2 separate regions of the Homo sapiens genome follow, and region 2 is linked to region 1. Evidence: fine-mapped expression QTL. A gene starts in region 1. The other region holds a variant in brackets. All regions are shown on one strand. Distances are between the middles of the regions. Region 1 holds the start of DAPL1 (death associated protein like 1). Region 2 holds the start of LOC124907901 (a long non-coding RNA gene).

The links. PIP is the estimated chance that this variant, and not a neighbour inherited with it, causes the effect.
Region 2: its variant is the best candidate, but not a certain one, in a credible set for the expression of DAPL1 in esophagus mucosa (GTEx, PIP 0.79).

What each region holds. Positions count from the first base shown.
Region 1 is chr2:158,792,519-158,797,904 of GRCh38, reverse strand. It overlaps DAPL1 (death associated protein like 1), which reads right to left and starts at 2,588. Exons shown (of 4, transcript NM_001017920.3): 1 at 2,475-2,588. The coding sequence starts at 2,532. RefSeq lists an enhancer at 4,993-5,162.
Region 2 is chr2:158,827,690-158,833,075 of GRCh38, reverse strand. It overlaps LOC124907901 (a long non-coding RNA gene), which reads right to left and starts at 5,008. Exons shown (of 3, transcript XR_007087272.1): 1 at 3,781-5,008. The variant G/A (reference allele first, on the strand shown) is at 3,079.

The sequences.
Region 1 (5,386 bases):
TCAGAGATGCAATATATTATATTAATATACATTAAAGTGAAACCATTGACTGCTCCATAGATAGGTAGGAAAGAGATGCAGCAGGCTGACTTCTAAGTGATTTTTTTTTTTTTCAGACGGGGTCTCACTCTTGTTGCCCAGGCTGGAGTGCAGTGGCGTGATCTCTGCTCACCGCAATCTCTGCCTCCTGGGTTCAAGCGATTCTTCTGCCTCAGCCTCCCAAGTAGCTGGGATTACAGGCACATGCCCCACGCCCGGCTAATTTTTGTATTTTTAATAGAGATGGAGTTTCACCATGTTGGCCAGGCTGGTCTTGAACTCCTGACCTCAGGTGATCCACCCACCTCGGCCTCCCAAAGTGCTGGGATTACAGGCGTGAGCTACTGTACCCAGCTGAGTGATTTCATTTTTAACTGTGATGGGATAGGCACATATTTTTTCCATTGCAGTTTCTTTCTGTTCCAACTACTGCAGTAGTGTCTAATGCCGCTCCAGCATCAGGATGTCTTGAAATTGGGGAGGATAATTTCTTTTGATAGTGATGTGTTCTACCGGGCCTGCATTTTAAGGGGGCTAACATTCAGGTGCCAGATACTTTACAGAGGTGATCTCTTTTAATCATTACAACAAACTTACTAGATAGATGTTATTTATTGCATCCTGTTTCAGAGATGAGGAAACTCAGGCTCGAAGATGTGAAATGAAGTTGAGGTTCAAACCCAGGTCTGTCTGATTCCAAAGGCTATGTATGTCCCACCCTCCCCACCGAATCGTATCTTCTTCCCACTTTTAGGGATCTGTATTTTGCTTATAAAAATCAAGTGAAAAATTAACAGAATTTTGGCACTTGTTTTTGTTCCATAAATAAAATTTTGCACCACCACAAACAGATTCAGACTTAAAATTAGTGGCAAGACAGGCTGAAGGATGACACTTCTTTGTTCCCTTGTGCTCAGTGGGGAGGCAAAAGTCTGCCTTCATCTCCATTCTAATTATCCAAAACCTCTTATCTGTAGTGTCACAGTTCATAATAATTAATTGTCATGCCAGAGGCATTGTGACATGCTTGATGGAGTCATGGTGTGCTATGTACACAGAGTAATTAGCAATCATTAGTGGTGGGGACAGAAAGTTCCCGGTGGTTTCATTCGAACTTTCATTTGGTTAAGTTTATGTCTGTGTTCTTTGTGCATAAATGTAGTTTAGCAAAACAGGTTTCATCTTAGCCATTTTATGAAGGGTTGGAGTGGAAACAACATAATGAGAATGGAGTTCTTTTTTCTTTTGTCTTTGTCTATGTAAGGAGCCTGTCTTCCAATGATTTGCATATATACTTCCTGACTATTAGCTAGCATAATTAACTTTAAATATAGGTAATGTTAAATATTGCTAAATTTGATTACAAATATAAAACATCAGTAATCTACCAGAGGAGATCAGACCAAGATGTCTAGAGCTGGAAACTCAGAATGAGTAGTAAAATCTGGACTCTTTTTGGCCAGGCTACCCGCCGGAAAGCCACCAAAACAATGTTACATTTTGACTCTCTGTGAAGACAATACCCGCCATCACCCTCTGCAGCAAAGATTATTGAAATAACCTTGGCCTAGAGGTGCCAGAGAATTAGACAGTAAATATGTTTTTGTAAATGGAGAAAGGCAAGAACAAAGCAGTCAAGCTTTTGAGTTCTTTCTTCAGTAAAAAAGAAGGAAGGCAGTTGGAAGAATATAAAACTGACTAAAAATAGGCCTGTACACCTCAGCCAATCTATATGAACATATGGTTAAGTACAATAAAACTAATTTCCATATTCCAGAGAGTCAATATAGATAGCATAAATTAAAAAAAAAGACAACTATGGATGCTTTGCAAACACCTTGACAGCTACTTTTTCCAGTCAGCCTCCTCAAGTCCTGTGTCTTTATTTAAAAGTACTTCTCAGCTTGTTGACAGGTAAATACATCCCCAAAGCCTGAGGAGGGAGAAAGAAATGTGATTGTTGTCCTCTGTGCAGAAGCTGCTTTGCCTGGGTAGGAAGTCACATGATGCACAGGCATCTTGGGGAGACTGAGTCTTACAGCTGGAACCTCTAAAGAGAAAGGTTTCCATGGTAGCAAATCATCTTCCTGGTGTAGATGTGTCACTGCTAATCTACAGCCAGGGCCCCGTGAAAGGAATGCTGCCTCGAGGGAGGAAAGGTGCAACCTCTCTACCTATGCCTTTCCACAAGCCCCAAATCCATACACTGCCGTAGGTAATTAGGTTTTAACTCACTGGGGGTCTGACAAATCCCCGGGTGGATTTACATACAAGCTAAGAAGGATCAAAGACATAAGAGGAAGTCAGGCTGCATGGAGTTAAAGTCATACTGGGTAGACAGAGAAGCTTCCGTCTGTCGGGGTGCTCCATGGAAGGCATTGGTGGAAGAGGGGAGCAGCAACAGCCTGCAGGACTGAGGGCAGGTGGCAGCCTACCTGCAGGAGGATGTCCCCCTTTCCGAGGGGAGAGCAGGTCTTGCACTTCATTTGCCATAGCGTGTGCCAGTGCCAGTGCCAGTGCTGGTGCTCTGGAGGCTGAATGCCAGCTGTGGCTGCCCCACCACCGCACCGGCTTTATAAAGGCAGGGGGCAGGGCCCCTTAAGGGCATTGCTGAGCAGCAACAGGGCTTGTCATCCAGCTCTCTGGGAAACCTGCATCTCCTTGGCAAGTTTTCTCTTAGAAGAAGACTTTCTTCTTCCCTTCATCTGGGAAGGCAAGGTAGATGTCTGCAGGAGACAGGATATTCTTTTCTTTCTTTTTTTTCCACAGGAGGAAAGGGAGAGGATGGAGTTCAGTGGAATTCTTTTTCTCTCCAACCGTTGATCCCTCAAGTGTGTATAGTGCACCTGCAATGTAACAGGCTTTTGTCATATTCTGGCATGACAAGGGGGCCAAGACAAGCTCTTTGCTTCAGGACATCTGTAGTCTTTCTAAAGAGACAGGTATAGAGCAAAGTCCTGTGCCTCTGTCCCAGTTTTTGCAATTATAAGCATTTATACTAAGAAAATAATTGGAAATGTATACAGAGATTTCTGCGCAAGGATGGGAATCATATGCTTCTTTTCTTTTTAAAATATTGATGGGAATCAAGATAAACATCTCCAAATACAGAGGGATAGTTAAGATGAATCAAGAAATCACTGTGAGAGTATACCTTACAATCATGTTTTCAAATAATATTTAATGATGTAGAAATATTAACGATAAGATAGTGAAAAAGTAGACAAGAAACCAATCAATGCCAATTTTGCTAAAAAGGAAAAATACAACTTTAAGCTTAGCCATTATTGTAATTCCAGCGCCAATAAAAGTTTAGCATGTGGCAGATATTTATAAAAATTTCTTTGTTCTTCAGTACAGTTAAAAAACAACTTGAAGAGCAGTTGTCTGCTCTTCGAAAAACCCTGTTAAGAAAATAAAAACAAGCTACAAACTGGGAGAAAATATCTGTAAAATGCATTTCTGATGAAGTACCGACATTTAGAATGTATAAAGAATTCTTACAACTCAATAATAAGAAAGCAGACAACCCAATTAAAAATGGGCAAAAGATTCAAATAAAACATTACAAAGTAAGGATATTGACAACACATAATCACACAAAAAGATGCTCGACATCATTAGTCATTAGGGAAATGCAAATTAAAGCCACAATAAAATACCACTACATATGTATTAGGATGGCTCAAGACAAGAAAAAAAAGGAAAATACAAAATGCTGGTGAAGACGCAGAGCAACTGAAACTCTCATACATTGCTGGGGGAAACGCAAAAAAGCAAAGGTGTTCTGGAAGTCAGTTTGACAGTTTCTTATAAAATTCAACATACACTTACTATATATGACTAACAATCCAATTGCTAGGAATTCTCCCAAGAGTGATGAAAACATATGTACACACAAAACCCTATGTGCAAATGTTTATAACAGCTCTATCAGGATTGCCAAAAGTTAGAAACAACTCCGAAGTTCAACTGTAGAATGGGTAAACAGATTGTGGTGTATCTATATCATAGAATATAACTCAGCAATAAAAAGGGAAACATGGATGAATCTCAAAAGCAACACGTTAAATGGAAGAACCCAGACTAAAAAAAGCTACTTCCTATATAATTCCATGTACATGACATTCTTGAACAGTTGAAACCCTAGGAACAGAAATTGGATCAGTGATTGCTGGAGAGCGGTTGGGGAGAGTGGCTTAATTACAAAGGTGAGGAGGTGACTTTTTGAGGGTGATGGAAATAATTTGTATCTTGATTGTAGTGGTTGTTACATTCATCATACGTCATACACACATCACCTTAAAAGGGTGAATTTTACCATATGCAAAATATGCCTCAACAAATGACAAAAAATCTGTTTGTAAATAAATGAATGTAAATACTCCAAAATGTTAAGAGTGGCATTCTGTAGGTGGGAGTATTACATGTGGATTTTTAAATCTTCTTTCAGTATTCTGTATTACTTTTTAAATAAATAAAAACTAATAAAAGTTTTTTTTGAGGGAAAAGTATGGTAAAGTGTTGCGACAAAGGTTGGCACATTTTTGGGAGCAAAGAGGAAACATTCATATCATCTAGCAGTTATTTTGTGAGTGGCCTTTCCTGCAGGGCCCTGGACTAGGAGCTGGGGTTCAGAGATGAGAAAATCTCATTCTTGCTTTCAGCGATCTCACATTCTCATGCGGATATGGACATGATGAGAAGGTTAACAGAATTCCTTCTATGATTGACAAGGTTTATTGTGGCATTATTCCTCAGAAATTTCTGAGAAGATGGAAATGTTTGTATCTGCTCTGACCAGTGTTGTAGCCACAAGCCACACATTCATTTGAGCACTTGAAATGTGGCTGGTGCAACTGAAAAATTGAATTTTTAATTTATTTAAAATTAAATAGTTTTAATTAATAGAAATAGGAATAGCTACATGTGGCATGTGACTCTGGTATTGGACAGCATAGGTAGGTAGCATAAAGCCTAGATGTGTGACTGTTTGGTACCAGATTTTATTGGTTATCTTCTATATCTATAAGCTGCGAAAGTGCAAAAGGCAAGGAGGAAATCAAAGGGCAACCACCCCTTAGGAGAGCCTGCACCTAGGACAGCCTAAGTGATGTGGAGGAATGAGTGGTTGGACCAGAATATAATGCATGCCCAAGCAGAGAAGGCTTCTTTGGGGCAAATACTCGATTTATCCATGAAGTAATGTTAAACAGGATTTCTTTTCACATCATTCGCATGTAAAGCCTTCAGTTCACAGATGTACATTGTGACCCTCCCCAGGGGGATTTAGTAGGCAGCATCCGCAGAGCATTTTTCATCATGAAAACGTTCGTTCTCATGGCCC
Region 2 (5,386 bases), 35 kb before region 1:
AAGTGAAAGATCTCATTTACATAGCTTTCATTCTTAATGAGATTGATTATTAAAAAAAATATATATATATATTTGCTGTTCAAGTTTGTTATCTATGAAATGCCAGTTTCTAGCTTTTGCCCATATTTTCTATTAGGCTGTTATTTTAAAAAATGAATTTGGGCTGGCATGGTGGCTCACGCCTGTAATTCCAGCACTTTGGGAGGCCAAGGCTGGTGGATCCCTTGAGGTCAGGAGTTTGAGACCATCTTGGCCATCATGGTGAAACCCGATCTCTACTAAAAATACAAAAAATTAGTTGGGTGTGGTGGTGGGTGCCTGTAATCCCAGCTACTTGGGAGGCTGAGGCAGGAGAATCACTTGAACCTAGGAGGCAGAGGTTGCAGTGAGCCGAGATCATGCCACTGCACTCCAGCCTGGGGGATGGAGGGCGACTCTGTCTCCAAAAAAAAAAAAAAAAAGAATTTGAAGGAGTTTTTAAATATATTAGGTAGACTAGAACTGTTTTTTTTTCCAGACTTATTTGTGGAGTCTATAGAGGCTGTATACTTTTGTTATCAACTTTTATTATGTCTGGAAATCATATACTATGAGGGAGATCTTTCCACCGCAAGACTTTAAAGTGATTCTGTAATCCATAGCTTAACTAATCTTTTCTGATAGACATGTGAATTGTTTCAAATTTTCCCTTTTGCTGGTGATACTGCATTGAATACTCCTGTACGTACATCTATCTCTTTGCCTTTGAACAATTTTATACAATTTTTCCTCCTTATGTGAACATTTGTATAAGTTTAAAAAATTTTTTTTTCTTGGAAGACAAATTCTGAGAAACTGCATCAAAGGATAGGCATATTTTAAATTTCACTGATCTGCGCTTTTGAATTCCTACCCATCAGCTGCTTTTGGAAACTTGTTCTCTCAGTGAGTCTTTCCCGCATAAATCTTTAGCCTCTCCCAATCCATGGGCTCTTTCTTTTCAGCCTACCAACATGCTCCAAACTCACGTCTTCTTAGAAACAAAGCAGAACAACACAAAATCGCTTCCCTTGTTGAGTCCGCATTTCTTTCTAGTTGCCATCATGCCTCTTTTCTTTTCTTCTTAGCCAGCTTGTTGAAAAGGTTGTCTATCTGTCCCCATTACCATGACTGTTATTTGCTGCCATCTGATTTCTACCCCTTGCACTTCACTGACACCGCCATGGAAAAGACGCCCAGGGACCTCTAAGTGGTTTACTAAATGTCACCTGCCACTGTTCCCTGTAACTCTCCATTCTTCCCCTCCATGACACCAGTTCTTTCCTGGTGCTCTCCTTGGTCAGCCTTCCTTCTCCATCTTCTTTGGGTTCCTTCTTCCAATGCTCACTCATTAAAAAATTATTATTATTATTATTATTTGAGATGGTGTTTTGCTCTTGTCACCTAGGCTGGAGTACAATGGCACGATCTCAGCTCACTGCACCCTCCGCCTCCCAGGTCCAAGCAATTCTCCTGACTCAGCCTCCCGAGTAGCTGGGATTACAAGCATGCGCCACCAGGCCCAGCTAATTTGTTGTATTTTTATTTTTATTTATTTTATTTTATTTATTTATTTATTTATTTATTTTTTTGAGACGGAGTCTTGCTCTGTCACCGAGGCAGGAGTGCAGTAGCACAATCTTGGCTCACTGCAACCTCTGCCTCCCTGGTTCATGCCATTCTTCTGCCTCAGCCTCCCGAGTAGCTGGGACTACAGGCGCCCGCCACCATGCCCAGCTAATTTTTTCTATTTTTAGAAGAGACAGGGTTTCACCGTGTTAGCTAGGATGGTCTTGATCTCCTGACCACGCGATCTGCCCGCCTCGGCCTCCCAAAGTGCTGGGATTACAGGCATGAGCCACTGCACCCAGCCAATTTTTTGTATTTTTAGTAGAGACGGGTTTCACCATGTTGGCTAGGCTGGTCTTCAACTTCTGACCTCAAGTGATCCACTCACCTTGGCCTCCAAAGTGCTGGGATTACAGGCGTAAGCCACCGCGCCCAGTCAATTATTATTAGTTTTTGAGACAGGGTCTTGTTCTGTTTCCCTGACTGGAGGGTAGTGGCACGATCTTGGCTCACTGCAGCCTCAACCACTGGGGTTCAAGTGATCCTCCCACCTCAGCCTTCCAAGTAGCTGGGACTATAGGCACATGCCACCATGCCCATCTAATTTTGTTTATTTTCTTTGTAAAGATAGGGTATCACTGTGTTGCCCAGGCTGGTCTCAAACTCCTGGGCTCAAGCGATCCACCCACCTCGGCCTCCCAAAGTGCTGGGGTAACAGGCATGAGCCACCATGCCTAGTCCAATGCTCACTCTCTTAACTTTGGTGTTTCTAGTGTTCTGGTCTTGATCTCATGCTTTTCTCTCCATACACATTCACCTCATCGGTTGTATCTACTCTCACTAACTTTATGCTATCAACACATAGTAGGTTGAATAATGCTTCCAAAGATGTCCAGGTCCTAATCTCTGGAACCTGTGAATAATACCTTATCAAGCAAAATGTGCAATTGTGATCTTGAGATGGGAATATTATCCTGGATTATCTGTGCAATGTAATCACACGTGTCCTGATAGAAGGGAGGCAGAGGGAGGCATGACTACAGAAGAAGAAAGCTATGCGACAACAGAAGCAAGACGCTGCACTCCTGGCTTTGAAGATGGATTAAGGGCCAGAAACTGAGGAATGCAGGCAGTCTCTCGGAGCAGAGAAGGAAAAGGATTCTCTCCTAGAGCCTCCAGAAGGAACCAGCCCTGCTGACACCTTGACTTTAGCTTAGTGAGACTAATTTTAGACTTCTAACTTCCAGAATCATAACAGAGTAAATTTATGTTGTTTTAAGCTACTAAATTTATGGTAATTTGTTACAGTAGCCTCAGGAAACTAGTATAATGCTTGAATACGTATTTTTCATACCAGAACTCGCCTCTGATCATCAGATTCATAGCTGCATCTGCCTGCTACCCTCACATTCAACAGGACTCAAACAGACCCCATCATCCTCTCCCTCCTTCTGCTGTGTTTCCCTGATTCATTTAATGGCACCGTCGGCC[G/A]GGTGTGGTGGCTCATGCCTGTAATCCCAGCACATTGGGAGGCTGAGGCAGGCAGATCACCAGAGGTCAGGAGTTCGAGACCAGCCTGGTCAACATGGTGAAACCCCGCCTCTACTAAAAATACAAAAATTAGCTGGGCATGGTGGCACGCGCCTGTAATCCCAGCTGCTCGGGTGGCTGAGGCAGGAGAATCACTTGAACCTGGGAGGCAGAGATTGCAGTGAGCCGAGATCGCACCATTGCACTCCAGCCTGGGTGACAGAGCAAGACTCCATCTCAAATAAATAAATAAAGATATAAAATAATAAATAAATAAATAAATAAATAAATAAATGGCACCATCATTCCCTGAGTCACACGAGTCAGGACCAAGGATCCTCCTGGACTCCTCCCACTCACAGACCAGCAATCATCAAGCCCTGCAGTGTCTGCTGCCCAAACCTTTCTAATATACGCCTCCTTTTGGCCTCTATGGCTCTCCGCCTATAGATTTATCCCTTCCCGTATTCATCCTCCATATCAAAGCCAAGACAAGCCTTCTAAAAGGAAACCTGACCAAGGTCCTTTCTTTAACCACTGCTTAGATTCAAGTCCAAACTCCCTGGCAGGCCATACAAGGCTCTCCCTTTTGCAGCTGTGTCTCCTGCTGTGGACTCTAATGATGCTCAAACAGTTTGCTACTTTCCCACCTATAGTAGTTACCTTTGCGTGTTCATGAAACTTCATGACCTTTGCTTCTGCTGCTCCTGCCCTTCTTTTTCTGCTCAGCTTTTACTGGTCTTCATGACTTAGCTCATTTTCTCTAATGAGGCAGAGCTCAGCATTCTTCTTTTGTCCTCCTCTAGCAGCCTGTGCCTGCTTGTGTACCATAGCAGTTTCCACAGTAAAGAGACATTATTTGTGTTCACCTGAAGCCAGGAGCAATGTCTCATTCATCTATTAAAGCTCAGTGGTTTGCACAAGGCCCAGTAAATATCTGTCGAACTGAGCTGAATTGCATTGCAGATAGAAAAAAAAATGATTTCACTTAGTCAAAATATTTCAAAAATGTAGAAACTCTTCTTTTATAAACTTAATCTCCTCTGACAGTTCTGGGTTGCAGCCATGTATAACAAAGGGCAGGAATACAAAACAAAGATTGTCTGAAAATTCCCCGAGTGAAGCATTTAAAAAAGGAATCATGAAAATGTAAGTAAACTCTGTGGCCAGCCCATCTTCTCTGTGTTCTTTCAAGAAAAATATTTGAAGTTTCATTTTTCCTTGAAGTTCAAAACAAGTCGGAATATTTAAGAAAGTGTCTAGACATTCTGAACTTGACCTTTGACAATTGTAGGAGTTGACTTTTCTAGCCAGCTGTGAAGTGCAAATACAAAGCACAGTTCATTTAATCCAGAGCCAGGTATCAGGCTTGGGCACACTCTCTGTGTGAATAAATAGAAGCAGCAATCATGTTCACTTTTCTACAGGCAGGGATGACATCCTAAAAGGATGTCAGGCTGAAGAGACTACAGCATATACTGCTAGGTGACCAAACCAAAGCACAGAATGGTGTGTACGGCATGCCTCCTTTTGTGTAAAAAGGAGGGAGGGGAATAATATATATTCATATTTGTTTGTATTTGCATAAGTAATCACTGGAAAGAGAAATCAGAAATGAATAAATATGGTTACCTGTAGAGTGTGAGAGGCAACGGAGTAGATGGGGATGGGAAGGAATGACAGTTCTCAGTACCTACCTTTTCATAGTGTTCAGAGTTTTCACTCGTCTAAGTGTATTTTCTATTTAAAATAACTATAAAAAAATAATGTCGGATGTAGGCCAGTACTATTCCCAGTGTGCCTTGTTACCATTTGAGAAGCATCAGTATATTCTTAGTTTTTGGCCTAGAGAGTCTTTTTTAATGTTTAGCACTTGATTTAGAAATGATGGTAAGTTTTATTTTATTTTTTTCCTTAAAAAAAAAATTTAGGTTGGGCACGGTGGCTCATGCCTGTAATCCCAGCACTTTGGGATGCTGAGGTGGGAGGATCACTTGAGTCCAGGAGTTCAAGTCTGCAGTGAGCTGTGTTCACGCCACTGCACTCCAGCCTGGGCAATAGAGCGAGATTCCATCTCAAAATAAACAAATAAATTAAATAAATAAATAAATAAATAAATAAATTTTAGATTTGGGGTACATGTGCAGGTTTGTTACATGGACATATTGCATGATGCTGAGGTTTGGGCTTCTGTTGGAAGCCCAAATAGTCCATTCTGTCACCCAAATAGTAAACATGATTTCAAAATTTTAAAAATATTACAAAAATA